4 linked regions of the Homo sapiens genome follow. The protein of the gene in region 1 interacts with the protein of each later gene in a pairwise test. Each region holds a gene or a part of one and is shown in the gene's direction. Other genes may lie near its edges.

The links.
Region 2: the proteins of SLC66A2 (region 1) and SLC35E3 interact in binary tests that used the Homo sapiens proteins (3 or more experiments, as listed by UniProt).
Region 3: the proteins of SLC66A2 (region 1) and FBLN1 interact in binary tests that used the Homo sapiens proteins (3 or more experiments, as listed by UniProt).
Region 4: the proteins of SLC66A2 (region 1) and ZFYVE27 interact in binary tests that used the Homo sapiens proteins (3 or more experiments, as listed by UniProt).

Annotation. Positions count from the first base shown.
Region 1 is NC_000018.10:79,948,634-79,956,607, reverse strand, and holds the start of SLC66A2 (solute carrier family 66 member 2), read left to right. Parts: upstream 1-4,954; 5' UTR 4,955-5,027; intron 5,028-5,577; exon of another isoform or gene 5,578-5,582; 5' UTR 5,583-5,681; coding exon 5,682-5,884; intron 5,885-7,046; exon of another isoform or gene 7,047-7,089; intron 7,090-7,974.
Region 2 is NC_000012.12:68,749,153-68,756,181, forward strand, and holds part of SLC35E3 (solute carrier family 35 member E3), read left to right. Parts: intron 1-2,879; coding exon 2,880-3,038; intron 3,039-7,029. UniProt on the Homo sapiens protein: Putative transporter.
Region 3 is NC_000022.11:45,596,864-45,601,645, forward strand, and holds the end of FBLN1 (fibulin-1 isoform D precursor), read left to right. Parts: intron 1-3,443; coding exon 3,444-3,583; 3' UTR 3,584-4,272; downstream 4,273-4,782. UniProt on the Homo sapiens protein: Incorporated into fibronectin-containing matrix fibers. May play a role in cell adhesion and migration along protein fibers within the extracellular matrix (ECM).
Region 4 is NC_000010.11:97,740,117-97,747,145, forward strand, and holds part of ZFYVE27 (protrudin), read left to right. Parts: intron 1-2,977; coding exon 2,978-3,048; intron 3,049-3,476; coding exon of another isoform or gene 3,477-3,515; intron 3,516-4,612; coding exon 4,613-4,799; intron 4,800-7,029. UniProt on the Homo sapiens protein: Key regulator of RAB11-dependent vesicular trafficking during neurite extension through polarized membrane transport. Promotes axonal elongation and contributes to the establishment of neuronal cell polarity.

The DNA of each region.
Region 1 (7,974 bases):
TTGGGGTAGAGATGTAACATTTACATGTATTACAGTTAGGCCCTATACATCAAAAGGTCTTTCTAAGACTCAAAGGCACTTGGTGCACAGAGTTTGTAAACCAGCCGGGACCAGCCATGGTCAGTGGTCTCTTACCAGGAGAGTTACTGAAATCTGTCTCTTGTCTTGTCAGAGGTGTAGCTGTGGCTGGTGGACGAGGGTTCAGTCAGGCAGGTTTATTCAGTTTGAATGTGACAAGCCTAGGTGTGGTTTTTTGTTTTGTTTTGCTTTATGTTTTTTGTTATTTGTCCTGATGGATGTTCTGTATGTTTCCTGGATCTATGGTTTGGTGTCTGTCATTAATTTGGGGACATTCTTGCCATTCCACCATTTCTCCTGCCCCTTCTCCTCTTTCCTCCTTCCGATTCTCCCATTGTACCAATCATATCCTTTGATGTTGTTCTTGGATGGTGTTTTCTGTTGGTGTATTAGGCTGTTCTTGCATTGCTATAAAGAAATACCTGAGACAGAGTAATTTATAAAGAGAAGAGATTTAATTGGCTCACAGTTCTTGCAGGCCATACCAGCATGGCACCAGCATCTGCTCAGCTTCTTGGGGGCCTCAGGGAACTTTTACTCATGGCGGAAGGCAAAGTGGGAGCAGGCATTTCACACGGTAAAAGCAGGAGCAAGAGAGAGAGAGAGTGAGGGTGTGGGTAGGTGCCAGACACTTTAAAGAAAAACAGATCTCAGGCGGGCGCGGTGGCTCATGCCTATAATCGCAGCACTTTGGGAGGCCGAGGTGGGTGGATCAAGAGGTCAGGAGTTTGAGACCAGCCTGGTCAACATGGTGAAACCCCATCTCTACTAAAAATACAATAAATTAGCCAGGCATAGTGGCACAAGCCTGTAATCCCAGCTACTCGGGAGACTGAGGCACAAGAATCACTTAAACCCAGGAGGTTGCAGTAAGCTGAGACTGTGCTGTGCCACTGCACTCCAGTCTGGGCAACAGAACGAGACTCCGTCTCAAAACAAAAACAAAAACAAAAACAGATCTCACATGAACTCAGAGTGAGAGCTTACTCATCACAAGGGGATGAAGCGATGGTGCAAGCCATTCATGAGGAACCCGCCCCCATGATCCAAACACCCCCTGCCAAGCCCCACCTCCAAAACTGGTGATTATAACTCAACATGAGATTTGGTGGGGACACACACTCAAACTAGATCAGTTGATTTTTTTTTTTTTCATCACCTTTTCTCCTTGAATTTCAGTTTGGGAAGTTTCTGTTGACTTATCTTCATATTCACTGATTCTTTCCTTCATTCTGTCTAGTCAACTAATGAGCATTCTTTATTTCTATTGTGTTTTTGACTTCTAGCATTTTTTTTTTATTATTGTTTCCATCTTTCTGCTGATATCACCTATCTGGTCTTGCATGTTGTCTAATTTTTCTGCTAAAGCCAGTTTATCCAGGAGTTTCTGCTCTGGGTGAGCAGCTCTCAGGTGCTGTCTCTCCCTGGATGTGCCTGTCTCTTCAGAGCAGGGTGCCAGTTTGTCTGGCAGCCTTAGTTCTCTGATGGGCCCATGAAAGGCTGCCCTGCTATTCTTTGCTGTAAGGATGGGGGTGGTGACTGCCAAGCACGTCACATGACACCAGTTGAAGTTGCGGAACTTCTGAGCCAGGCTCCTAAAGTGAGACTTCCAATCCACCTTCCGTACAGGTTTCCTTAAAAAATGGGGTGCGCGACCAGCAAGGTGGCTCACTCCTGTAATCCCAGCACTTTGGGAGGCCTAGGTGAGAGGATCCTTTGAAGCCAGGAGTTCAAAGACCAAACTGGCCAACATAGTGAGCTCCCCGTCTCTATAAAATAAATAAATAAAATAAAAAGAAATAGGCTGAGTGAGAAACAGTGGCTCCAATCTTCCTCTGATGTCCCAGCTCTCAGAACAAGGTTGCTTTGTTTGCTTTTCCTTTTATAAGCACCATGTGTTAGGCAAATTCTTAAGTGGTTCCCTGAGGTATTCATGCTCCTACGTGACACCTTAATCTGCACCGGGCCAACCCAGTGACCTGTTTCTCATGAGCAGAGCCTGGAAAGCATGAGGCACAGCTCTGCTTCCTCTGTGTCACAGCTCTGATCTTGTCAGTCACTCATTGGCTCCTGCAACAAATGACCACAGCTAAGTGGCTTTTACAACAGCAGAAGTTTATTCCTTCACAGCTCTGGAGGCCAAAAGTCCAAAATCACTTTTAATGTGCTGAAATCAAGGCATTGGCAGGGCCAGGCTCCCTCGCATGGCTCCTGGGGAGAATCTGCTCCTTGTTTCTGGGGCCTCTGGTGGCTCCGGCGTTACTTGGCTTGGGACTGCATCACGTCAATTTTCAAGGCCCCATCTTCATCTCTGCTCCATCTTCCCATGGCCCTCTCTTCTGTGTGGCACCAAATTTCCTTCTGCCTCCCTCTTACAAAGATGCATGTGGCCGGGCACGCTGGCTCATGCCTGTCATCCCAGCACTTTGAGAGGCCAAGGCAGGAGGATCGCTTGAGGCCAGGAGTTCAAGACCAGCCTGGCCAACACAGAGACCCTGTCTCTGTTGTATGTATTTATTTTTGAGATAGGGTCTCACTTTGTCACCGAGGCTAGAGTGCAGTGGTGCGATCCTGGCTCACTGCTGCCTCAACCTCCTGGCCTCAAGCAATCCTTCCACCTCAGGAGTAGCTGGGACTACAGGTGCACACTACCATGCCCAGATAATTTTTCTATCTTTTGTAGAGACGAGGTCTCACCATGTTGCTCAGGCTGGTCTCGAACTCCTGGGCTCAAGAGATTTACCTGCCTCAGGCTCCCAAAGTGCTGGGATTATAGGCGTGAGCCACAGTGTTTAGGGCCCACCTGGATAATCCAGGACAATCTCTCTATCTCAAGATCCTTAATGACATTAGAAAAAAAAATTGTTTTCCCATACGAGGTAATATTTACAGGTTGCCTGGATTAGGACTTGATGGCTTTATAAGGGCCATTTTCCAGCTGTGCATGGCTTGGTCGGCTTCTCTTGTTTGCAGGAAGCTATGTGACAAGCGCAGCACCTGCAATGAGCTGTGATTGGCTGATGTAGACTGGGGGTGGGGGCTCGGACCCCCGGCAGGTGGTGTTCGAAAAGGTACAAACTCACTCTGCAGTCATCAACTCACCTTTCGGGGTGCCTCTGAGGCGTGAGGCCTGTGGGGTGACGTCCGAGCATGCCAGATTTCGTCCACTGAGCCGGGCTCCTGGAGGCCCCGTGCACAGATGCAGCTCTAGGCCCCAGGCTGCGGGCACAATTTGCCCCATGCCTCCACAGCCTCTGGATTTAAGATAACCGAGGATAGCGTCTGGGACCCCAGTGCTCCCGTGAGGGTCAAGGAGGTCCGGAGCTTACTCCAACCTCCAGGGCAGAGAGGACAGATGATCCCAAAGGCTGCTGGGCTCAGGCTAGGGCGCGGCTGAGCAGGGGCAGCTGCTTTTTCTCTCCCAGGCTTCCTGCTGTGCCTTTTACTCACCTCTACGTTCCTGGTGCTGGGGCTCCGCAGCGCTGGCTCTAAAGAAGTTCCAACGCCAGCCTGGGGGCGCAAGGCAGGAGCGCCCTGTTTCCTCGATTGTTGGGGATTTGCTCCTAGTTAGGTGGTGACTGTCCTTATGATCCCCCATAAAACCAGTCGGGCAGGGGGCAGGGGGCAGGGGGCCGGGATCGTGGAGAAGAGGCCGCGGCTGGCGGGGAAGCAACCCTCAGCGTGGACCCCTCAACCTCGCGGCTCGCCCCTTACCCGTGCACCCCTCGCCTCACACCCCCGCGCCCCTCACCCACGCGTCCCTCACCCTACACACACCCGCCCATCACTCGCGCACCCTTCACCCCTCACCCACGCTCCCCTCACCCTTCACCGGCGCGCCCCTCACCCCTCACCCCTCACCCAGGCGCCCCTCACCCTTCACTCGCGCATCACTCACCCCTCACCCCTCACCCACGCTCCCCTCACCCCTCACCCCTCACCCGCGCTCCCCTCACCCCTCACCCGCGCGCCCCTCACCCCTCACCCGCGCTCCCCTCACACTTCACCCGCGCTCCCCTCACTCTTCACCCGCGCGCCCCTCATCCACGCGCCCCTCGCCCTCAGTCCTCACCCGCGCGGGCCAAGAGGGTCCCGGGCGAGGGCAGCTCCCCGCGGGCGGGTGTGGGGCTCGGAGTTGGCTTGGCACGCGAGGCCGGCAGCAGGGCCCGGGCTTCACGCACGCCTGGCCCCCGAGTCTGTCTTGAGGCTCAGGAGCTGCCTTTTCTGCAAATAGGCGCCCAACGGTTCAGCCCGGAGAACTACACGGGGATGGGGAGAGGCCGCCCCGCGTTTCTGCAGCGACAGCGACCGTGGCCGCAACCACGATAATGACAATGGCCACGGTGACGGCCGCGCGTCCAGCCGGCCCCCCGGCGACGGCCCCGGCGCATCTGCTCGTGGGGCACTTGCATCGGAGCGGAGACCCGCGGGGGGCGCTCCGTTTCCCGAGACCCCGGCCGCCTCTGGGCGCTGCAAACTCCGAGCCGGGTCCCCGGGTCTCCTGGGTCAGGACAGAGCTGGACGAGACTCGTCCCCGGGTGGCCCGCATTCAGGACACGCGTGAGAGGGGCGTCCGGACCCCGCGCCCCCGGCCCTCCAGGACGACGCCCTCCGCTTGGATGGCCGCGCGCCGGGACAGCTGGAGACGGGTTAACGTGGGCGCCAGGCCTGAGGGACCGGCCCCGCCCGGCTGGTATTTCCCGACCGGGCGGGAGGAGCCACGCGCCCCCACCGCCCCGACAGCCCCGGCTCCCGGCCCCGCCTGCGCCCGCCCTGCCCAGCGCGCTCTAGGACACCGCGGCGCCTCCGCGCAGCTCCGGCGTGGGCGGGGCCCGGCATTGTGACGTCACGGGGCGGGGTTTCCCGGCGCCTGAGCGGACTGACGCCGAGACGCGCGCGGGTCAGCGGCGCGGGGACGCGGGGCGCTGGGCGCGGGGCTGGGGGCGCAGGTAAGGAGCGCGGGGGCGGCGCGGGGTCCTCGGGGGGCGGCCTAGGGCGGCCGAGGACGCAGGGCCGGGGCAGTTGGTCGCGGCCTTCAGTCCCCTGGCTTGGTCCTGTGGGGTCCCCGGCCCGGCACCTCCTCCCGCGAGCCGTGCGCCCCCATCCTGGGCCTGCGCCCCCTTCCCCCGAGCCGTGCGCCCCCATGCTAGGCCCTGTGACCCTCCCCCGAACAGTGCGCCCCGATCCTGGGCCCTGCGCCCCCTCCCCCACCCCATCCCGGGGCGCGCGTGGACCCCCGCCGGCTAAGCGCACCCGGGCGGTGACCCCAGGGGCTTCGCCCGTCCTCGACCCCGGCGCTGGGACCCCTCCCCAGCCCCCTCCGGGAGCGTCTCGGGACCCCCAGACACCCCCCCGTCCCAGGCAGGGGCCGCTCCTCGCGCGCCCCGGGCCCCGGTCGCCCCCGCTCTGCCTCGGGTCCTGCGGCTGGCGCGGGTCGGGTCGGGTCCGTGCGCGCCGCCCCAGCCTCCCTGGGCGGAACTCGAGCAGCTCCCCGCTCCCCGCAGGCCCCGAGGCCGCAGGAGCGCGCGGAGCGGCGATGAGCAGGCGGCCGGTGGCCCGCGGGGCGCGGAGCCCGTGACAGCCTCGGCCAGGCGGGCGCTGCGATGGAGGCCGAGGGCCTGGACTGGCTCCTGGTGCCACTGCACCAGCTGGTGTCCTGGGGCGCGGCCGCGGCCATGGTCTTCGGAGGGGTGGTGCCCTACGTCCCGCAGTATCGGGACATTCGCAGGACGCAGAACGCCGACGGCTTCTCCACCTACGTGTGCCTGGTGCTGCTGGTGGCCAACATTTTGCGGATACTCTTCTGGTAAGTTGGGGGCTTGCTTTCCTGGGCTGCACCCGGAGAAGAGGGTTTCTCCTTTGGGGTTTCTGGTTGAGGCCGGGGGAGCAGCAGGGTCCACACCTCCCTGCTGGGCCAGCGTCCCACTCTGCCGTGGATGGGGTACGTGGCTGCAGGCAAGTCACTTCTTAGGGTGAGATTATTTTTCCAGAAAAACGGTGGGGTTGGAGCACAGAATCTCAGAGAAAATCTCCAGATCCGCCTCCTTGCATGATGTTCCACATGGGTACTTAGCAGGGACCTCTCAGCTGGGCACTGGCCTAGGCCTGCCTGTGGAGAGGAGCCGTTCCTGCCCTCCTTTTTCATGTTGTATAGTTTTTCTTTGTTGTTTTGAGAGAGGGTCTTGCTCTGTGGTCCAGGCTGAAGTGCATGATGACATGACAGCTCACCGCAGTCTCCACGTTCCTGGGCTCAGGTGATCCTCCCATCTCAGCCTCCCGAGTAGCTGGGACCACAGGCGCACCACCACACCCGGCTAATTGTTTTTTTTGTATTTTTTGTAGAGACAGGGGAGTGGGGGGTTGTCTCACTTTGTTGCCCAGGCTGGTCTCGAACTCCTGGCCTCAAGCATCCCTCCCCACTGGGCCTCTGAAAGGGCTGGGATTACAAGCTGAGCCACGGCGCCTGGCCTGCCTTATTTAAATAGGAAGTCACTCTCTCTGGAGACTGTCTTGTTCCTCTCCCCAACTTCCTCTTTGTATTTGTATTAGGCTAAGGAAATTGAAATTAATTTTAACAGTTGTTGAAGGCAGACATAATTGGGAGGGTGAGTTTTCAGAGGAAATGAGGTCTCACAGCTGCATTCTAAGGCCAAAAACGTCTGAAATTTTTCTTTCTTCTGGGTGATCCCAGCCTCTCTGTCCGGGCAGATTGGAAGGTGTCTGCTGCTCTTCCTATGAAGAGGGCCTGGTGGAGGGGTGGAGAGAAGGAGTCCAGGCAGCTGGTGTCAAGAACTCTGCTTCTGACTCTGGTCACTGAGTAATCACGTACCTGCTTCTTTGCCTGTTAGTTTTGTTTTGTTTTTTTTTGAGACAGAGTCTTGCTCTGTCGCCAGGCTGGAGTGCAGTGGTACAATCTCGGCTCACTGCAGCCTCTGACTCCTGGGTTCAAGTGATTCTCCTGCCTCAGCCTCCTGAGTAGCTGGGACTACAGGTGCCTGCCACCATACCCAGGTAATTTTTGTATTTTTAGTAGAGACCAGGTTTCACCATGTTGACCAGGATGGTCTCGATCCCTTGACCTCATGATCCACCCACCTTGACCTCCCAAAGTGTTGGGATTACAGGCGTGAGCCACCGCGCCTGGCCCGCCTGTTAGTTTTTAAGTCAACCTTATTGAGGTGTGATTTGCATTCCATGAAATACACCCCTTTCGTGTCCATTTGATGAGTTCTGATGCTGAGGTGTCCCGTGTTCATGAGCCGGGGTGCTCCCTGCTCCGTGGCCTTCATCCCAGCCCTGGCCATGGGCAGCCATTGGTCCATGTGTCCCTGGGTGTTAGTTTTGCCCCTGCCAGGGATTTTTAGGTGAGCGAGTGGGTTGGCTGCCTCTTCCCCAGAGTTGTCTCTGAGGCAGGGAGGTTTGTCCCCTGCAACGACCTCGGAGGAGGATTTTGGGTCCGAGTCCCGTCTCGAGGTTTGTCTCTGGGCCAGGCTGCATCTGAGGGAGGTTCAGGGGTGCTCATTTTGGAGACTCCTTCTTTCTTTCCCATCGCCTGCTTTGGAGACGTGGCTGGCGGTGCTGCAGTGGCCTCAGTGAGCGTAAGGTTGACTGGAAGTAGGTTTCTAATTGTCTAATGCTGTTGTTTACTTTGAGTGCATGTTGTGGGGGTTGGGGAGACGCTGGTCGGCAGGCCACCTGCTACAGCCCCAGCTCACGTGTGTGTTGTGAAGGAGCGCTGCACTCGTCTTCAGGGTTATAGAATAAATTCTCTCCAAAATAATGGAGGAAAATTGCCTGAGAGTGGATAACCATACGGGAAAGAAGTTCCGCTTAGAGGTTTCCCTCCCCAGTATGCTCATAGTTCAAAGTTGCTAAAAGAAAATAAATTAGGTTGGG
Region 2 (7,029 bases), on another chromosome or scaffold:
TTTGTTCACACAAGTCTCAAAATTGCTATAGATTAGAATCAAAGGATTCTATATCCCTAAGGTAGATATTTGACATGAGATTGACCAAGGAATGATTGTAGATTAATGGACAGTTTCTTATCAGTAAGTGGTAAAGGTACCATTACAAAATAGGTATATTCCCAAAACATTCCTCTTAAAGAAAGTTGTATCTGCCCACAGTATCTTGGGATAATTTCTATGTTGTTTCTCTTATACTGCTGGAGACATTAAAAGGAGTTAAAAGACAAGTGACCAGCTATTAGCTTGAGTTGTAGAAAGATGGTTGACTCATTCATTCGTTCAGCAGACATCTTTTCTGCATTATGTTCACCCTTGAGGATACAAAGATGAAAAGCAGCTACAGTCCAGCAGTGTAGAAACACAAAGAGACAGCTGGTCACAGTAGCATATGTACCCCAAGGTAGGAGGAAAATTCTGAGGAACACCAAGGAGGAAGTGGCAGCTCTTAAAGAGGGGCGGTGAGGTAAGACTTTACGGAAAAGTTAACAATTTAAATTGAAGGGCACACAGAAATGAGCTCAGCAGGGAAGGACAGCTGGTCTTTTCCTTGCAGTGTGTGTGAAAGTCTGGAGCATTTTTGGAGAACTTGATTTGTTTGGTGAGGCTAGGCAGTAGGTGCATTGTGAGAAGACAAGGCTGAGGAGTGGGTGATACCAGATGTCAGGGTCGTGAAGCCATGCTAAGGAAGTATATCTTTATTGAGCACGCACCAGGAGAGGAGTTCAGACAGGGACTGACTTGATCATTCCCCTGTCTTTAGAAAAGTAACTGATGGCAATGAAGGGTGGGTAAGAGGGAAGGAAGGGTAAAAGGCAGAGCAGTCAGGAACCTACCTGTACTTCACAGGACAGGCAGGAAGGGCCTGGGCTAGGGCGGTGGGAATGGACAGGGAAAGGTTAAAAGGCACTCCAGGGGCGTTTTGGGGAACATAGGAGAACCTGACTGAATGTGAGAGAGAGGAAAGTAAGGCTCTGATCCCTGAGGGAGATTATATCATCAATTATTGGAAACACACAAGAGGAGCCCATTTGTAGAAAAAAGGCACCAGTTGATTTTAAACAAGTTCCTGCAGATTATATAAGTAGAGATGGCCAGGAGACTGGCCAATATAAGGTTAAGGATGCTCAAGCGATGAGGGAAGAGCAGTAGATCTCAGCAAATAGTAAAAGACATCAGTCAGGGCGATGAAAGAGGAAGGCAGGCATCTGCCTTAAAAACTGTTAAGTGCAGGAGGCAGTGAGGGAGGAGTACAAACCAGAGGGTAGTTCTTCCAAGCAAAACTTGCAGGTTCTGCAAAGAGGGCTCGCAGGAAGGGCCACAGGGAGTCTGGACATGTCCATGGAGATCATAGTGCCCTTAGGAGAGCATTAGAGGGGTGGTGGCAGGAGCCAGGCTGTGCTGCATTGAGGGACAGTGGAGGCCTGAGAGCCCCTGCTGTTCCAGGCAGTCCTGTGGCGAAGACACGCGGCTGCCTGAAGAGGCTGCAAAAGGAAAGGCAGGTGAGCACACACCCTCTGTATCCGTTTTTGCTTGCTGCTGTGCCCCAAGGAGCAGGCAGCAGAAGAATCAGTTCTTTGTCCTTCATATTCACAGAGGACTCTTAGTTAAAGCTGGCAGGAGTATGGTTCAAATTCCCTGCTCTTCTATTTTTGTCTTGATGGATTTCTATAGACTTAGAGTTTATGTAACAAGATACCCAGACCTACAGGAACAAGAAGTATGTAGAAGTCATTCAAAAGCCTAGCTGTTCTTGCCAGATCTGATCCAAACAGTCCTGTTAAATCTTCTTCAAAGCCTTTTTTTCAGTTATATTTGTGAAGTATTTTGTGGACGAATGGGATTTGAGGTCTTGAGATGTTGTTTCTACTGAATGGTATGGTATTTTAGGGTTAGTGATTATCCAGTGTATCTAGGTGTATTGGTGGGGGATGAGGAATAGTATCCACAGAAAAGTCATCCAGAGAGAGGAAAATCTCTTCTACCATTGATTGGGTTTTCCAAAGCAACTGACGAGACCACATACCTTTTCAAGCCACACACATTGGCAACCATCTCTAACCTGCCCCCATGCCCCATTGTCATCGTGTCCCCCCAACCTCTGTCTTTGTTTTTTTTTTTTTTTAGACAGAGTCTCACTCTATCACTGAGGCTGGAGTGCAGTGGCGCGATCTCAGCTCACTGCAACCTCCGCCTCCTTGGTTCAAGCGATTCTCCTGCTCAGCGTCCCGAGTAGCTGGGACCACAGGCGCCCGCCACCACGCCCAGCTAATTGTATTTTTAGTAGAGATAGGGTTTCACCATGTTGGCCAGGCTGGTCTCGGACTCCTGACCTCAGGTTATCTGCCTGCCTTGGCCTCCCAAAGTACTGGGATTACAGGTGTCAGCCACTGCTCCTGGCCCCGGTCTTCCATTTTTTAAATTTTGCCATTTTTAGAAAGAAATGAAGTCCAACACTGCATCTGTATTCCTAATCACCTGAATTTCTATTTCTCCCTTATTTTCCCAAGATCTTTTATCCTTGTAGGCCCTTATATGCATTTATTTTTCCCTATTTACTAGGATCAGGTAGAAGGAAATAGAGGACTTTTCTCCTCCTTCTAAGAATTGAGAAGAAGCTAGATTATCAGAAATTAAATTTATAGAGCTATTTTCATCCATGGTGCTTAAAGGGCATTCATATAGCTTACTGGTCTTTGAAATCTTGTAGAATAATTAGACATTTTATCTTCCCCTAGTCTATACCCCACATTCCCATCTTTGTGACTCTAGTTGTCGCATCTTTGATTATGTGATACTATTTCTTTTGTGCCAGACATGTTTTATCTCCTAATTTTCAGTGGGTAGGAGCCAAACAGCATGAATTACAAGTGAACTCAATGCAGCTGCTGTACTACCAGGCTCCGATGTCATCTGCCATGTTGCTGGTTGCTGTGCCCTTCTTTGAGCCAGTGTTTGGAGAAGGAGGAATATTTGGTCCCTGGTCAGTTTCTGCTTTGGTAAGTTCTAATTGTTTTGATATCTAAGAAACAGTATAATAATAACTCCTCCATTATTAATGTAATTTTTAGTTTTCAGAGCACTATGTCCGATCCATTCTCACATTTATCGTCATAATCACCATAAAAGGAGGTAAGGTAAGGATTCTTTTTCAGATGAAGAAATTGAGGTACACAAAGGTGAAGGGACTTGCCTAGAGTGAGGCAGCTACTCAGTGGCAAAAGCAGAACTACAATTAATGTCTTCCGATGCCTGGTTACTGTTCTGACCATGTCAAGCTAGAGCCCACAAATAATTTGGACATTTAGATTAAGTTAAATTTTTTTACAATGAAAACATAGCTTTATAATCACTATTTCGATTTTGAACATACGTAAAAATATAAAGAAAGTGAAGGGGCCAGGCACAGTGGCTCACTCCTGTAATCCCAGCACTTTGGGAGGATGAGCTGGGCAGATCGTTTGAGCCCAGGAGTTTTAGACCAGCCTGGGCAACATAGGAAGACCTCATCTCTACAAAAAATTAAGAAATGGGCAGGGTGTGGTGGCTCATGCCTGTAATCCTGGGAATTTGGGAGGCTGAGGCGGGTGGATCACTTGTCAGGAGTTCAAGACCAGCCTGGCCAACATGGCGAAACCCATTCTCTACTAAAAATACAAAAAAATTAGCTGAGGCTGGGTGCGGTGGCTCATGCCTGTAATCCCAGCACTTTGGGAGACCAAGGCAGGCAAATCACCTGAGGTCAGGAGTTCAAGACCAGCCTGGCCAACATGGCAAAACCCCGTCTCTACTAAAAATACAAAAATAAGCCAGGCGTGGTGGCACACACCTATAATCCCAGCTACTCAAGGAGGCTGAGGCACAAAAATCACTTGAACCCGTGAGGTGGAGGTGCAGTGAGCTGGGATCACACCTGTCTCAAAAAAAAAAAAAAAAAGAATTAGCTAAGTGTGATGGCATGCTTCCTGTAATCCCAGCTACTCAGGAAGCTGAGGCATGAGATTTGCTTGAACCTGGGAGGTGGAGGTTGCAATGAGCCAAGATTGTGCCACTGCACTCCAGCCTGGGCCACAGAGCAAGACTCTGTCTCAGAAAAAAAATAAATAAATAAAAAAGCCAGGCATGGTGGCACATGCCTGCAGTCCCAGCTACTTGGGAGGCTGGGGTGGGAGGATCACTTGAGCCCAGGAGGTCGAGGCTGCAGTGAGCCAAGATAGCACCACTGCATTTCAGCCTGGGCAACAGAGTGAGACCCTGTCTCAAAAAAAAAAACCAAACCAAAACAACAACAACAAAAGAAAGTGAAGGGCCTCTGGAACCCTATCACACTAAGGTAATTACCTTTACCATTTTGGTGAGGATCATTTCATGGATCTCTTTTGTATAAACACATAGGTACACATGCATGTGTGTATAATTTTAGATATGGAATGATATCATAGATGCTGTTTTTATTGCAGATTCCTTTTCCCCAGCCTTCCTAGCCACACACTCTTCCACATTCCATTACCCCCTAATCTTCCACATTCCATTACCCCCTAATCCGTGCCCCTTGAAGTCATGTTAACTTTCTAAGTGCTTGTTCTTCCATATTTTTCTCCATGCCGTATATATCCATACACACACACACACACACACACACACCCCAATTAAACATCTATTTCTTTTCTTTTTTTTGAGATGGAGTCTCACTCTGTCGCCCAGGCTGGAGTGCAGTGGTGCAATTCTTGGCTCACTGCAAACTCCGCCTCCCGGGTTCAAGCGGTTCTCCTGCCTCAGACCCTAGCTGGGACTATAGGCGCACACCACCACGCCCAGCTAATTTTTGTATTTTCAGTAGAGATGGGGTTTCACCATCTTGGCCAGGATGGTCTCAATCTCTTGACCTCGTGACCCACCCGCCTCGGCCTCCCAAAGTGCTGGGATTACAGTCATGAGCCACCGTGTCCGGCCACATCTGTTTCTTTGACAAAAGTGGAATCCTATTACATATGCTTTTCTGTATCTTGCTTTTCTGACTTAATAATATCTCCTAAAAATCTCTCCAAAGCATTCTTTCCAGGGTCTATTTTGTTGTTGTTGTTGTTTTTGTTTTGTTTTGTTTTGTTTTGAGTCAGAGTCTCACTCTGTCACCCAGGCTATAGTGCAGTGGCGTGATCTCTGTTCACTGCAACCTCCACCTCCTGGGTTCAAGTGATTCTTGTGCCTCAGCCTCCCGAGTAGCTGGAATTAGAGGTGTGCGCCACCATGCCTGGCTAATTTTTTTGTATTTTTGATAGAGACAGGGTTTCACCATGTTGGCCAGGCTGGTCTTGACCTCCTGACCTCAAGTGATCCACCCACCTCGGCCTCCCAAAGTGCTGGGATTACAGGCGTGAGCCGCCGCGCCCAGCCGGTGTCTGTGTAATAGCCCCTCTGCATATTCACTTTTTTCCCAGTTCTTTACCACTATGAACAATATTGTGATAAACATCCTTGTACATCATGTGTTCTCATGTACTGATAACTTTTTTCCTATGGAAATGAGTCCCAGGAGTGGAATTGGCAAATCAAGGGCATATGTATTTTGGGGACTTTTATTTTTTAGAGACAGTGTCTGGCTATGTTGCCCAGGCTGGCCTCAAGCTCCTGAGCTCAAGTGATCCCCCCAACCTCAGCCTCCCAAGCAGCTAGGACTAATGCGTTGGGGACATTTTAAGTTAGAATGTATAATCCTCCTATGTCTTAGTCAGTTCAGGCTGCTATAACAAAACTACAATGGACTGGGTGGCTTAAACAACAAATACTCATTTCTCACAGTTCTGAAGTCTGGAAGTCTGAGAACAGGCTGCCAGTATGGTTGGGTTCTTGGTGAAGGCTCTTTTCCTGCTTTATAGATGGCAGTCTTCTTGCCATATCCTCATCTGACAACAAGGAAGAGGAGAAGCAAGCTCTCTTGTATCTCTTCTTATCATAGGGACTAATCCCATTCATGAAGGCTCTGCCCTTATGCCATAGTCACCTCCCAAAGGCCCCACCTCCCAATACCATCACCTTGCGGGTGAGGATTTCAACATAGGAATTTTGGGGGGACACAAACATTCAGTCCATAATACCTTACTTATCAGGAATTCCTGCTTCCCACAAGAGTTCCCACAACTCTTGGAACACAGTCAGTGGGAATATCTTTTTTGTTGGTCGCATCAATTTATCAAGCACCTATATAGCCCTTAGTCTGTTCCCAGCACTATTCAAAGCACTATGTAAATATTAACTTATTTAATCTTCATAACTTTATTAGGTTGATGCTATACTAATACTATTTGTATTAGTCCATTTTATGATGTTATAAAAGCATACCTGAGACTAATTTATAAAGAAAAGAGGTTTATTTTGGCTTATGGTTCTGCAGACAGTACAAGAAGCATTAGTGCTGGCATCTACTTCTAGTGAGGGCCTCAGGAAGCTTACAGTCATGGTGGAAGGTGAAGGGGGAGCAGGCATGTCACATGGCGAGAGAGGGAGCAAGAGAGAGAGGGGAGGAAATGCCAGTCTCTTTTAAACAGCTAGCTCTCATGAGAACTAATAGAGCAAGAACTCACTCATTACCCTGGGGAGGGCACCAAGCCATTCATGAGGGATCCAGCCCCATAACCCAAACACCTTCTACTAGGCCTCACTTCCAACATTGGTGATCAAATTTCAACATGAGATTTGGAGGGAACAAACATCCAAACTATATTACCATTGTTATTATTTTTACTGATGAGGAAACCGAGAGATAAAGAGTTAGTAACTGGCTCGCAATCCCACAGCTAATAAGCAGAAACACAATTTGGATACATGCCTTCTGGGTCCAAAGTCTGTGTTCTCCAGTGCTCCGCTCTGCTTCCCCTAAGTAGACCAGTAGTTATTTCAAATTTATATATTTTACCATATACACTTTTTTTCTAAAGTAGAGGTCATTGGACCATCTATCAGATAATATTTCCACTTTGCAAAAGTCCTAGC
Region 3 (4,782 bases), on another chromosome or scaffold:
CTTTAAACTATTTAAAATACAGTTATATAAATTTGACATACTTTATAACATATATTTTTAATATATTGTTTTATATGTATAATAGTTATATATCATATATGAAACTATATAATATACAGAAATATAATAATAACAGAAATAGATCTCTTTTTTTTTGGGACAGGATCTTGCTCTGTCACCCAGGCTAGAATGCAGTGGCACAATCTTGGCTCATTGCAACCTTGACCTTCCCGGGCTCAAACAATTCTGCCACCTCAGCCTCCTGAGTAGCTGGGACTATAAGCACACACCACCATGCCTGGCTAATTTTTGTATTTTTTGTAGAGACAGGGTTTTGCCACGTTGCCCACGCTGGTCTCGAACTCATGGGCTTGTGATCTGCCCGCCTAAGCCTCCCAAAGTGCTGGGATTACAAGCGTGAGCCACTGCACCCAGCTGAAACAAAGACATATCTGACTGTTGCTTGTGGAGGTGCCTGCCATTCCTCCCTACAGTGATTCACAGGCTCACCCAGCCTCTCCTTCTCCTTCAAGCCCCAAACCTCTGAATGCCAGGAAGGGTGGTAAGAAGTGTCTCTGCGCCTAGTACCAGTAAAGTTGGCAGGTCACTGTGGCTAGCGGGGGCACCATTGTTGGCCTCGGGCCTGGGGAGAGAAAAATATGACATACAGGGGGCCCACGGGGGTACGTTAGGTTCAGCCCTGTAAGCCCACACTGACCCTGGTGGGCAGACCCAGCCCAGGGAGGGGCAGGCAGGAGTGACCCCGTCATCAGGTTCTGCTGGCGAGCCCAGGGTGGTGACAGGCGCACGTCTTTTGCCGGGAGCTGAAGACGTTCATGGGCTTTCAAGCAGGACAAAGCTTCAATGTCATCACCAGGTAGCAGGCAGAGCAAGGGTGCTGACAGCCTGCAGAAGCCTGTGCTTATCTCTCCATCGGAGCTAAAGCCCATGTTTGCTTAGGGAACAGCCTGAAATTCCACCCCAGCTGCTGGGCCTTTCACTTTTGAAACATAAGCCCAGAGAGCGAAAGGGGGGAACGTTGTGCCCAGATTCTCTTTCTGAGCGTGAACTTGATGTTCCTGACCAGGAACCAGCCACTCGTACCGAAGGCCTTCCTGACCCCTCAGTTCTCCCCTGAGCCTTTGCTGTGTCCTGGGCACCAAGAGGTGGAGATAGGCTGTCACCGTGCACGTTTCCTAAGCCTGCAGAGGAACTGTTCACAGAATCCAGCCTGGAATCAGCCGTTTGTGGCAAACAGTCAGTAGCTATTTCTCAACTTGTGGTTGTGAAGCTGCAGGCTCCATATTCGCTCTTCACAGAGCATCCAAGCAGGTGTCTCAGTGCCAGCTCACACCGTTCACACTGCTCACACCAGCTCTGGAGAGCTGCTTGTACACATCTCTCCACAAGTCCACTTTCAGTGTTGCCACGTGGTACCGGAAATTTGCCATAGAAATTGGCCGATGGTACGACCAGAGAGCCACCTGTTAGATAGTTACCCCACATCCCCACCCTCAACACCACCTTAGACAAATCCTACTGTCAGAACATGTGGAACGGAGAAGGGACCTTGGCGGTTCATTCATAAATGTCAGCACCCATAGGTCTGTGCCTGTTTGGCCGCAGACACTGGGGAGCAGCCTGTAGCCTTGGCTTGTGCAGCTTCCTCTGCAGGAGGGGTGCCTCTTCCAAGAAACCTGTCCTGACTCCCCAGCCCTCCCCACCTCCATTCTCGCCCCCGCTGGACAATGCACACCCTCCATCAGAGCGTGGTGCATACCTTTCATCCTAGATCTCCCACCAGCTTTGAAACCAGCATCCTGTTCATGATGTCTGGAACCCTGGGAACTGTCCCAGCACCTGTTTAGCACATGTGTGCATGCGAAGGGGATCTGCTGAGTGCTCTGCTCTGGTGGGAAGGCCGCTCTGCACAGCTGGAGCTGATGCCTTGGCAGATGCTGGGCATCTGAATCGTGCAGTGCAGGAGCACAGGGGCATGGCACCGTTTGTTGCTGGGGAACCTAGGCCTCAAAAGGGCCTCAGCCTCTCCGCAGTGCAGTGAGGACTGTCCCATACTCTCACTGCGTACAGAGTATGGGAGAGTCTCTGTGAGGCTTTGGGTGCCCTGCAGAGGGAAGGCAGTGCCAGCTGGGCCTGGTCGGGGGCCATGGAGATGGCGGGCCCAGGCTGGGGAGGACTTGTGGCACCCACTCCCTTACCCGCTAACCCGGATCCCCTGGAATCTGCAGAATGCCTGGGGTTGCTCCTCTTCTACCCTGCCGTGGCTGAGCTTTGTCTGTGCCCTGTCCTCTGGCCACGGTCTTTGCCTGATCCCTACCCTGGTACAGGCAGAGCTCCCTGCAACCCCCAGCTGTTTCCCCAGAACTGACACCAGTCTCCCTGCACCACCCATCCTCCTTTTGACTGCCCTGGGGACGCCACTGCTGCTCTGATCCTCTGTCACTCCAGCCACCTCTTGCTTCCCTGTTATCACAAACACTGAACAGTGAGCTCAGGTGTCAGCCTCCACAGAGGCATGCACAGCAAGGGGTCCGGAGGCATGCCCCATGGAGAACTGGGGGTGCTCTGCTTGCAGGAGGATCCAGGGCCCATTGCAGTCCTCAGATGTTCTGGGGGAGAGGATACGCCTGCTTCATTTCTTCTCAGGGGTCAGAACTGGGCACAGGGGGTTGGAAGGAGGGAGAAAGATGTCTATCAGGTACCCACTGCATGCCAGGCCCTCTTCTAGGCTCCCTTAAAACCTTTCAGGTAGGCCAGTCACGGTCGCTCATGCCTGTAATCCCAGCACTTTGGGAGGCCAAAGCGGGTGGATCACCTGAGGTCAGGAGTTTGAGACTAGCCTGATCAACATGGAGAAACCCCGTCTCTACTAAAAATATAAAATGAGCCAGGCATGGTGGCACATGCCTGTAATCCCAGCTACTCGGGAGGCTGAGGCAGGAGAATGGCTTGAACCCGGGAGGTGGACGTTGCAATGAGCCGAGATCACGCCATTGCACTCCAGCCTGGGCAACAAGAGTGAAACTCCGTCGCAAAAACAAAAGACAAACAAAAAACACCTGTCAGGTAAATGGTGGTAGAGCAGAAAACCTGGGCTCAGAAGCTGGCATTGATCCCAGAGCCATCCAGTTTCAAAGCCCACACCCACAACTTTCCTCCAGGTTGGGCAGTGCATGATGGAAAGGCTGTCCCAGCAAGTAGTGAGTTCACTTTCACCAGTCCCTGGAGGCAGGAGCAGAGCCTGAGCTGACCACTTGGAAGGAGATGTTATTCAGGGGACTCGAGCATCTGGCGTAGGATGGGACTCCATGAGGTCTATGCCTCCTTCTAGCTCTGAAACTCCTCAAGGGAAACCATTTCCCAGATCTCTACGTTGCTGCAGTCCCTTCTAACTTCCAGCACACCTTCTGCTCTCTCCGCAGGTGTCGTGCGCCAGGTGCGGCCCATCGTGGGCCCATTTCATGCCGTCCTGAAGCTGGAGATGAACTATGTGGTCGGGGGCGTGGTCTCCCACCGAAATGTTGTCAACGTCCACATCTTCGTCTCTGAGTACTGGTTCTGAGGGCTGGTCTGCCGCACAGCCGCAGGTGCACCTCCAGGCCAAATCATTGCTGCCAGTGACTGTGGTCTGTACTTGTTTATACCCTCAGACTTTTTTAATGTTAGGTATTTGTAGCATTAGGCCAACATGTATTAAGCTGAGCCAGATGAATAAGTCCATCTGATGTATTTTCGGTGTTTAAAAAATGAGCCCAGTTGCTCAACTGTTTGGTTGAAAACCTTGCTCATTTTTTAATGCGAAGGCTAAGTGTCACCCCCTTTCTCTGCCTCTGGCTGGGCCTTGCTAAGGGCCAAGGAAAGAAAGACATTTTTTAGGGGGCAGCCAGTCCAAATGCCAAAAGAAGACCAGTTCTTGCCCTGATTGTATGAAATTTGACATTTTGGCACTTTTTTTTTTTTTTTGGCCAATCAGATTTTCTATGTTCTAAGGACATGGCTGCTGTAGAATAGCACAGACGTGGATGATAAATTATCCCCAGAAGCAGCATGACAGAATGCCTCGGGGAGCACTTGGAAGGGAAATTGCAGTTCTGTTGAAATAGAGGAAAATCCCTTGGTAAAGACACAGCCTGTTAGGCTCGTGTGGGCCTCCAGTATGTTCACCAGGGGAATGGCTGGGATTTCTCGGCACTCTGCATCATCCATCTTTTCTTATAGGTGGGAAAATAAACAACTTTGTGATCCTCCTGATGGCCTGTGCATGAGAGTCTTTCAAGAAGAGGGCTCTCTGCCAGCTCAGGAGTCTTCCGCCAGCTAAGGGACTGGAAATCTCCCCCCGCCGTCCCCCTGCCTCACCCCACCCAAGGTTGTCTCAGTGCTCCTCCTGCCCCTCAAGGTTCTGGGGCGGGGCCCAGCTTGTGTATTGGAAAAGCTTCCTACACACGTCGTTTTCAATGCCATGCCCACCCTCTGAGAAGTGTGGCTCGGGTTTGTTCCCTGCCCCATGTCCAGTGCTGCTAGGAAAGCCCAGGGCTCTGGCTTCTGTGTGACTTGCTTCCAATAGCATCCCTCGTGGCATCCTGATCCTCTCTAGAAATCCCTGGGGGCAAATAATGACCCTTCCGCAGCCATGAGTCCCTGCCAGACACAGGCCTGGGCCAGGCATTTGACATGAGGTGCTTCGCTCATTCCTCCTGGTGGCCCAGTGTGGTGGGTATGATCACACACAATCTTGAGATGGACAAACTGGGCTCAGAGAGA
Region 4 (7,029 bases), on another chromosome or scaffold:
AGTCCTCTGAAATACATGAGAGAGACTGGTAGGAAGCAGGGTGAGTGGAGTTACGTTAACCTCTGAGGATGCCATTGAGTATTTATCCATGCCTCAGTCTGGAAATAGTGGATGTTTTGTTACTAGTTCTCTGGCAAAGGCCCTACATTTTTCTTGTTCACCTAATTTATGTCTGTATCCGTAGAGGTGAGCTAGTCAGTGTTCCAGAGCTGTGTTCTCTACTGTAAGATCACTGTGCTCTTCCCACAAGGGGTAGGGAGACAGTATGAGGAGAGGCTGTTTTCTCCTTTTATAATCTCAGCATGATGTGAAGTTTGGTCTTCTTTAGGAGAGAGGCTGTGCCCCCGGCACATTCTTTGTATGTGTGTGTTGCTCTTTGTGGCAAAGTACGAAAGTTAAGTGTATCCTGTCCTGCCCGTCTCCTTTTCCTCTACTAGTCCGTAGTGCGTCTTAGCACACTAATGTGTTAGGGTTTTTCCATTTTATGGAATTAAAAATTGGAGGATGTGGTAGGATTGGTTAAAGCAGGATGCAGGAGGAGCATTGGACTTAAAAGCCCCCAGGAGCCTGCAGTTTCTGTGCTGCTGGGAGAGGGAGCACTGGTCCATGAAAGTGGCTGTCACGTTAGTTTGTGCTTTTGATTGTTCTTTTCTTAGTAAAGAGGATTTGACTTTGAAGAGGGACCTAATCTTGGGCTCTGGCTATTAGGTCTGAAGCCTAGAGCTGCAGTAAATTGTTAACAGACTCTCTCCTGGGATCAGCTACTCTACTGCTTGGGTCTCCTGGGACCAAAGTGTCAGTAAAGACATTTTATAGAAGGGAAGAGGCTTTAAAATGAAAGTGACTTGAGTGGTGGTGTTTTTATTTCCAAAATGGGATTGGCTTTTATTTCGCTTTTACCCTGGTAGCTGCCACTAGAGGTTCTGAGGCGTAATTAGGGTGGTACAGGTGGAGTGTGTTGAATTTCAGGAGAAAGACACAGATGTCATTTCATTCCCTTACTCATAAATTTCATTAAAAAGTAAAAGCCCCTTTACACTGTTGGTGGCAGTGTACATTAGTTCAACCATTGTGGAAGACAATGTGGCGATTCCTCAAGGATCTGGAAGCAGAAATACCATTTTACCCAGCAATCCCATTACTGGGTATATATCCAAAAGATTATAAATCATTCTGCTGTAAAGACACATGCACATGTATGTTTGTTGCAGCACTATTCACAATAGCAAAGACTTGGAACCAACCTAAATGTCCATCAATGATAGACTGGATAAAGAAAACGTGGCACATATACACCATGGAATACTATGTGCAGCCATGAAAAAGGATAAGTTCATGTCCTTTGCAGGGACATGGATGAAGCTGGAAACCATCATTCTCGGCAAACTAACACAGGAACAGAAAACCAAACACCACATGTTCTCACTCATAAGTGGGAGTTGAACAGTGAGAACACATGGACACAGGGAGGGGAACATCACACACCATGGCCTATTGAGGGGTGGGGGCTAGAGGAAGAATAGCATTAGGAGAAATACCTGAGGTAGATGATGGGTTGATGGGTGCAGCAAACCACCATGGCACGTGTATACCTACGTAACAAACCTGCACGTTCTGCACATGTATCCCAGAACTTTAAGTATAATAATAAAAAAAAGTAAAAGCCCTGCATGAATTAGTTAACCTCATTCAGTAACTCTGAAATACTCCAGAGCACAAGAAAATATATTTAGCCCCAGCACGGTAGCTTACGCCTTTAATCCCAGCACTTTGGGAGGCCAGGGTGGGCAGATCACCTGAGGTCAGGAGTTTGAGACCAGCCTGGCCAACATAGTGAAACACCCCATCCCTACTGAAAACACAAAAACTGGCCAGGTGTGGTGGCGTGCCCCTGTAATCCCAGCTGCTAGGGAGGCTGAGACAGAATCGCTTGAACCCAGGAGGCGGGGGTTGTAGTGAACCAAGATTGTGCCACTGCACTCTAGTCTGGGCAACAGAGCGAGACTCTGTCTCAAAAGAAAAAAAAAAAAAAAAAGAAAATACATTCAATGCTTGCCAGCAATTTACCTGTTTATTTTTCTGATGTTTGTCTCTCTCCTAGTGGCTCACCTATATATTGACACTGCCTTTAGAATTTGGGTGTCGTGGCTTCATTGTTGCATCTGTGCTCCTCTTTCCCTACTAAATGTCCTTTATCAGGGACGGAGCCAGCAGCATTTGCTTGTTCTCAGCAATCTGAGTCTCTGGTCTTCCTTGTTCCCTGTTTGGGGGCTTCTGCATTGCCATTTGGTGGTGGTGGTGGTGGTGGCAGTGATGTATCTGTGTTTGCTTCTGTCTGTTCCAGCTCACTTAAGGTGTGATTGCTAAGTGAATGCTGCACCCTACTTTCATCTTGATTTTTAATATATTAAAATAAAATCTTTACTATTGTTTCTCTTTTTGAATTAATAGGTATTCAAAATAAACTCTCAGATAAACTCTCAAATTTTCAAAAACATGGACATAAGAAGATAAAGGCACAAATGGGGCCAAAGAAGTCCACAATTTGTTTTTTCTTGATTTCTGTATTAGTTGAATCTTGTGCAATGATTATATATTCTTATGAAATTATAAAAAAAGAATAGAGGAAAATATTAAGAACATTTGTCAGTGTCACCTCTTAAGGAGAATACAACCTTACAAAACACAGGTTAAATGGTATTAACTGGGTTTCTTAACTGATATTTTATAAATTCTTCTTCCTTTTGGGAGAAAGCACTACAGACCTACCAGTTTCCTCACCCCAGGTGCTAATGTGTGACATCTTACCGCCTCTCCTGGTCACCAGTCCAAGTGAGAGGCCCCCTTTTCGTTTCTCCTTGACCTTCTGTGTTCCAGGCCTCCTCTTCTGGTTTGATGTCCCGTCTGTGCTGCCTGGTCTCCCCTCCCCAGCTGGAGGAGTGACTCTCTGTAGTGATCAGGACTCTCTGTATTGTAGGTGGCAGATGCCTTTGTGTTCCTTGCTGACCTGCCTGGGCCTCAACGTCTTGTTCCTCACTTTGAATGAGGGTAAGAACTGCCTTCAGGGGCCAGTGGTTTTTGTGAACGAATGTGGGGGAAGAACACCTGGATGCAGCCCCACCCTATGTGTGGGAGCTGCTCTTGTTGCCCTGGAGTTAGTGTTCCTCTGTGTCTGCTTGGAGTCAGAAACAGCCTCCAGAGGGACGATCCAGGCTGAGCTGCCTGCTGTGACCTTGGGCAGATTATTGAACTTCCCTGTTAAGGCCTAATTTTCCTTACCTCTAGAGGGAGGATAAAAATGACGCTTTCCTCCTAGAGTATTTGTGAGGAATGCGGCAGTCTAGGCATAATACTTAGCACAGTGCCTGGCGTGGAAGAGGCAGCCAGTGCATTGTAGCTGCTCTCAGTATTATCGTTGTTTCCTTCTTGACTTCCTGCTGAGGATGCATTGACCTTTTTCCATTTTGGTTTTTAAGCTGATTCAAGGGTCATCTGGGGACATGGCATGAGTAAAGGTACTGGGATGAGGAGCTGATAAGGGATTTTTGCCATATCTGTTGCTTTTCTCTGGTTCAGCTAGTGAGCCTAACGGGAGCTGCTGGGCAGTCACCAGCAGTGAGGAGTGGCATGAAGCCTTTGAGATAGAAGTGTGGACACATGGGTGTCTGTTGGGGTCATGGGTAATGTCTTCTATGAACCTCTTACTACAGTGCATACCGTGACCCTACCCTATCCGTGGTTGGCGCTGGCAGATGGCCACATAAAAAGCCAAACCCCTCAGGGTGAGAATAAAGAGTCTGGGACAGAATGTTTGGAGGAGCTGGGCCATTATTCATGTTTTTGTTCTTTTACTTACCTTGTATTTCTCAGGTGTCTTCTTTGTTTCCTCTGGAGATAGGGATTGAGTAGGTTGAAAATAAATCCAGTTCATATAAGATCTCATTTTCTGTTTCTTAGTTGGACTCATCTTTACCTGTTCAAAACTTCCTAGGATGTTTGATTTTTCTATATATGCTCCCAAAGTAAGTCAGTTCCTATGACAGATGTTTAGTAAGCATTTATTATGGGCCCGCTGCTCTGTTAGCTTGTTGTTGGGGTGCCATGTTACATGGAAGAAGTTCTTTCTTTGAATTTTATCTCGGCTTCGCCATTTCTCAAGGCACAATCGTCTGCAGTGTCCTAAAAGCTGAACGAAAGGCTTCTAGCTTCCTTAGTGGCCCAGAGGTCCGAGTGTCAGGCATCAGGAGCTCCTGGCAGTCACACTCCAGCGTGAGCCTCCTCTGTGCTAGCAGCATCTTAAAACGTATTAAAAGTGAGGATGGGGCCACAGCAGTGACCAAAGGGACAAAGTCCCAGCCCTCAAGAGCTTACTTCATTAGAGGAGACAACAGACATGCCTGCAATGTGTCATGTGGTGATAAGGTCTATGAGGAATGAAGCTGGGTTAAGGGGGCTGGAGAGTAGGGGTGAGACACTGTGTCGTACAGAGCTATCAGGGAAGGCCTGACTGGCAGAGCCCTGGAGGAGGTGAGGAACAAGCAGTGGGCGTCTGGGTGGGCCGACTCCTGGTCTTTGCTTACCTGTGTTACCTGCAGTGTTTTTGATTCTGCAGGTGCATGGTACTCAGTAGGTGCCCTGATGATTTCAGTGCCCGCCCTGCTGGGCTACCTTCAGGAGGTTTGCCGGGCACGGCTGCCTGATTCCGAGCTGATGCGGAGGAAGTATCATAGCGTGAGGCAGGAGGACCTGCAGAGAGGTCGCCTGTCTCGTCCCGAGGCCGTGGCTGAGGTGAAGAGCTTGTGAGTATGGAAGAGAGGCCAGGGAGGTGGGGGAACAGTAACAGCAGCCATGACACTAAGTGCTAGCTTTGTGTGCTCGACATCATATTAGGCAAACCACAGCTGTTACTTCATTTAACCTTTTTAACAGTTCCGGGAGGTAGTTAATATTAACATCTTCCATTTATGGGTAAAGAAAAAGGCTGACTTACTTAGCTAGAAAGTGGCCAAGCTGGGATGAGAATCTCGATCTAGCTGTTTGTTTTCACAGCTTCTGTTCTTTCTTTCTTTTTTTTTTTGAGACAGAGTTTCGCTCTCGTTGTCCAGGCTGGAGTGCAGTGACGCAATCTCGGCTCACTGCAACCTCCGCCTTCCATTGGTTTCAAGCGATTCTCCTGCCTCAGCCTCCCAAGTAGCTGGGACTACAGGCACACACCACCACGCCCAGCTAATTTTTTGTATTTTTAGTAGAGACCGGGTTTCACCATGTTTGTCACGATGGTCTCGATCTCTTGACCTTGTGATCCGCCCGCCTCGGCCTCCCAAAATGCTGGAATTACAGGCGTGAGCCACCACGCCTGGCCCTGTTCTTTCTGCTGGAGAGACAGTTTAGGGTCTTGACTAAGCATGTGCATGTATAAGCCACTGCCTGGGTTCAAATCCCAGCTCTTCCATTTACTTGCTGTGTAACATTGGGCAAGTTGCTTAGCCTCTGTGTGTCTCAAGTTTCTCATCTGTTAAATGGAATGATAACAGGGCTTACTCAGAAGGTGGTTGTGAAGATTGAACAGGTGTCTTGTACTGGGGAAGTGTTGAGTAGATATTAGTTATCATCACTACACTGTGGAGAAACTTCGTAAACATGACAGAGCTGGTACTTCTGAGGAAGCATTTTAAGACTTGAAAAATATTCATCTAACAACTTCAGTAGCAGTGGACGTTTACACCTCCCTTCCCTGGAGTGGGGTCTCTGCATTCTCTTGAAATAGAATAGGGGCAAGAAAAGTTATAAACAAACAGATGGCTGGGCCTCACCCCAGAAATTCCGAGTCAGTTATCTGGAGTGGGGCCTGGATATGTAGTTTTTTTAAAAAAGACTTTCTTACTTTGAAATAGTTTTATATATATATACACATATATATATATATATATATATATTTTTTTTTTTTTTTGAGACAGAGTCTTGTTATGTAACCCAGGCTGAAATGCAGTGGCGTGATCTCGGCTCACTGCAACCTCTGCCTCCTGTGTTCAGGCGATTCTCGTGCCTCAGCCTCCAGAGTAGCTGGGATTACAGGCATGTGCCACCATGTCCAGCTAATTTTTGTATTTTTAGTAGAGATGAGGTTTCATCATGTTGGCCAGGCTGGTCTCGAACTTCAGCCTCAGGTGATCTGCCTGCCTTGGCCTCCCAAAGTGCTGGGATTGCAGGCATGAGCCACCGCACCCAGCCTGAAATAGTTTTAAACTTAAAGAAGTACAGGAATAATACCAAGAATGCCTTTTACCCAGATAGAACAATTATTAACATTTTGCCATGTTGGCTTCGTCTATCTCTCTACATATACATATTCTTTTCTTTTTCCTAAACCATTTGAAAGTAAGTTGCAAACGTGACTTAATACTTCAGCGTGTATTTCCTAAGAACAAGGACATTCTCTTAAATATCCACAGAGCTGTAATCAAAATTAGGAAACTTAACGTTGATAACTAATGTATAATTCGTAATCGGATTTTACCAGTTGTATTAATAAAGTTCTTTTTCTTCTTTTATTAATTTTTTTCCTTTTTTCTTTTTTTTTTTTTACTTTTTGAGACGGAGTTTTGCTCTGTCATCCAGGCTGGAATGCAGTGGCATGATCATGGCTCACTGCAGCCTCAACCTCCTGGACTCAAGTGATCCTTCTGCCTCAGCCTCCTGAGTAGCTGGGACCACAGGCACATGCACCATACCCTGCTAATTAAAACAATTTTTTTGTAGAGATAGGGTCTCATTGTCTTGCCCAGGCTGGCCTTGAATTCCTGGGCTCTAGCAATCCTCCTGCTTCAGCCTCCCAAAGTGCTGGGACTACAGGTGTGAGCCAGTGTGGGTGTCCTAATAAAGTTCTTTGTATCAGTTTCCCTGATCTGGGATCCAATTCAGGATTATACATCATGTTTAATTTTTTTATGTCTCTTTAGTCTTCTTTAATCTGGAGCAGTTCCTCAGTCCTTGTTTCTTGTGACCTTGACATTTTTGAATAGTACAAGC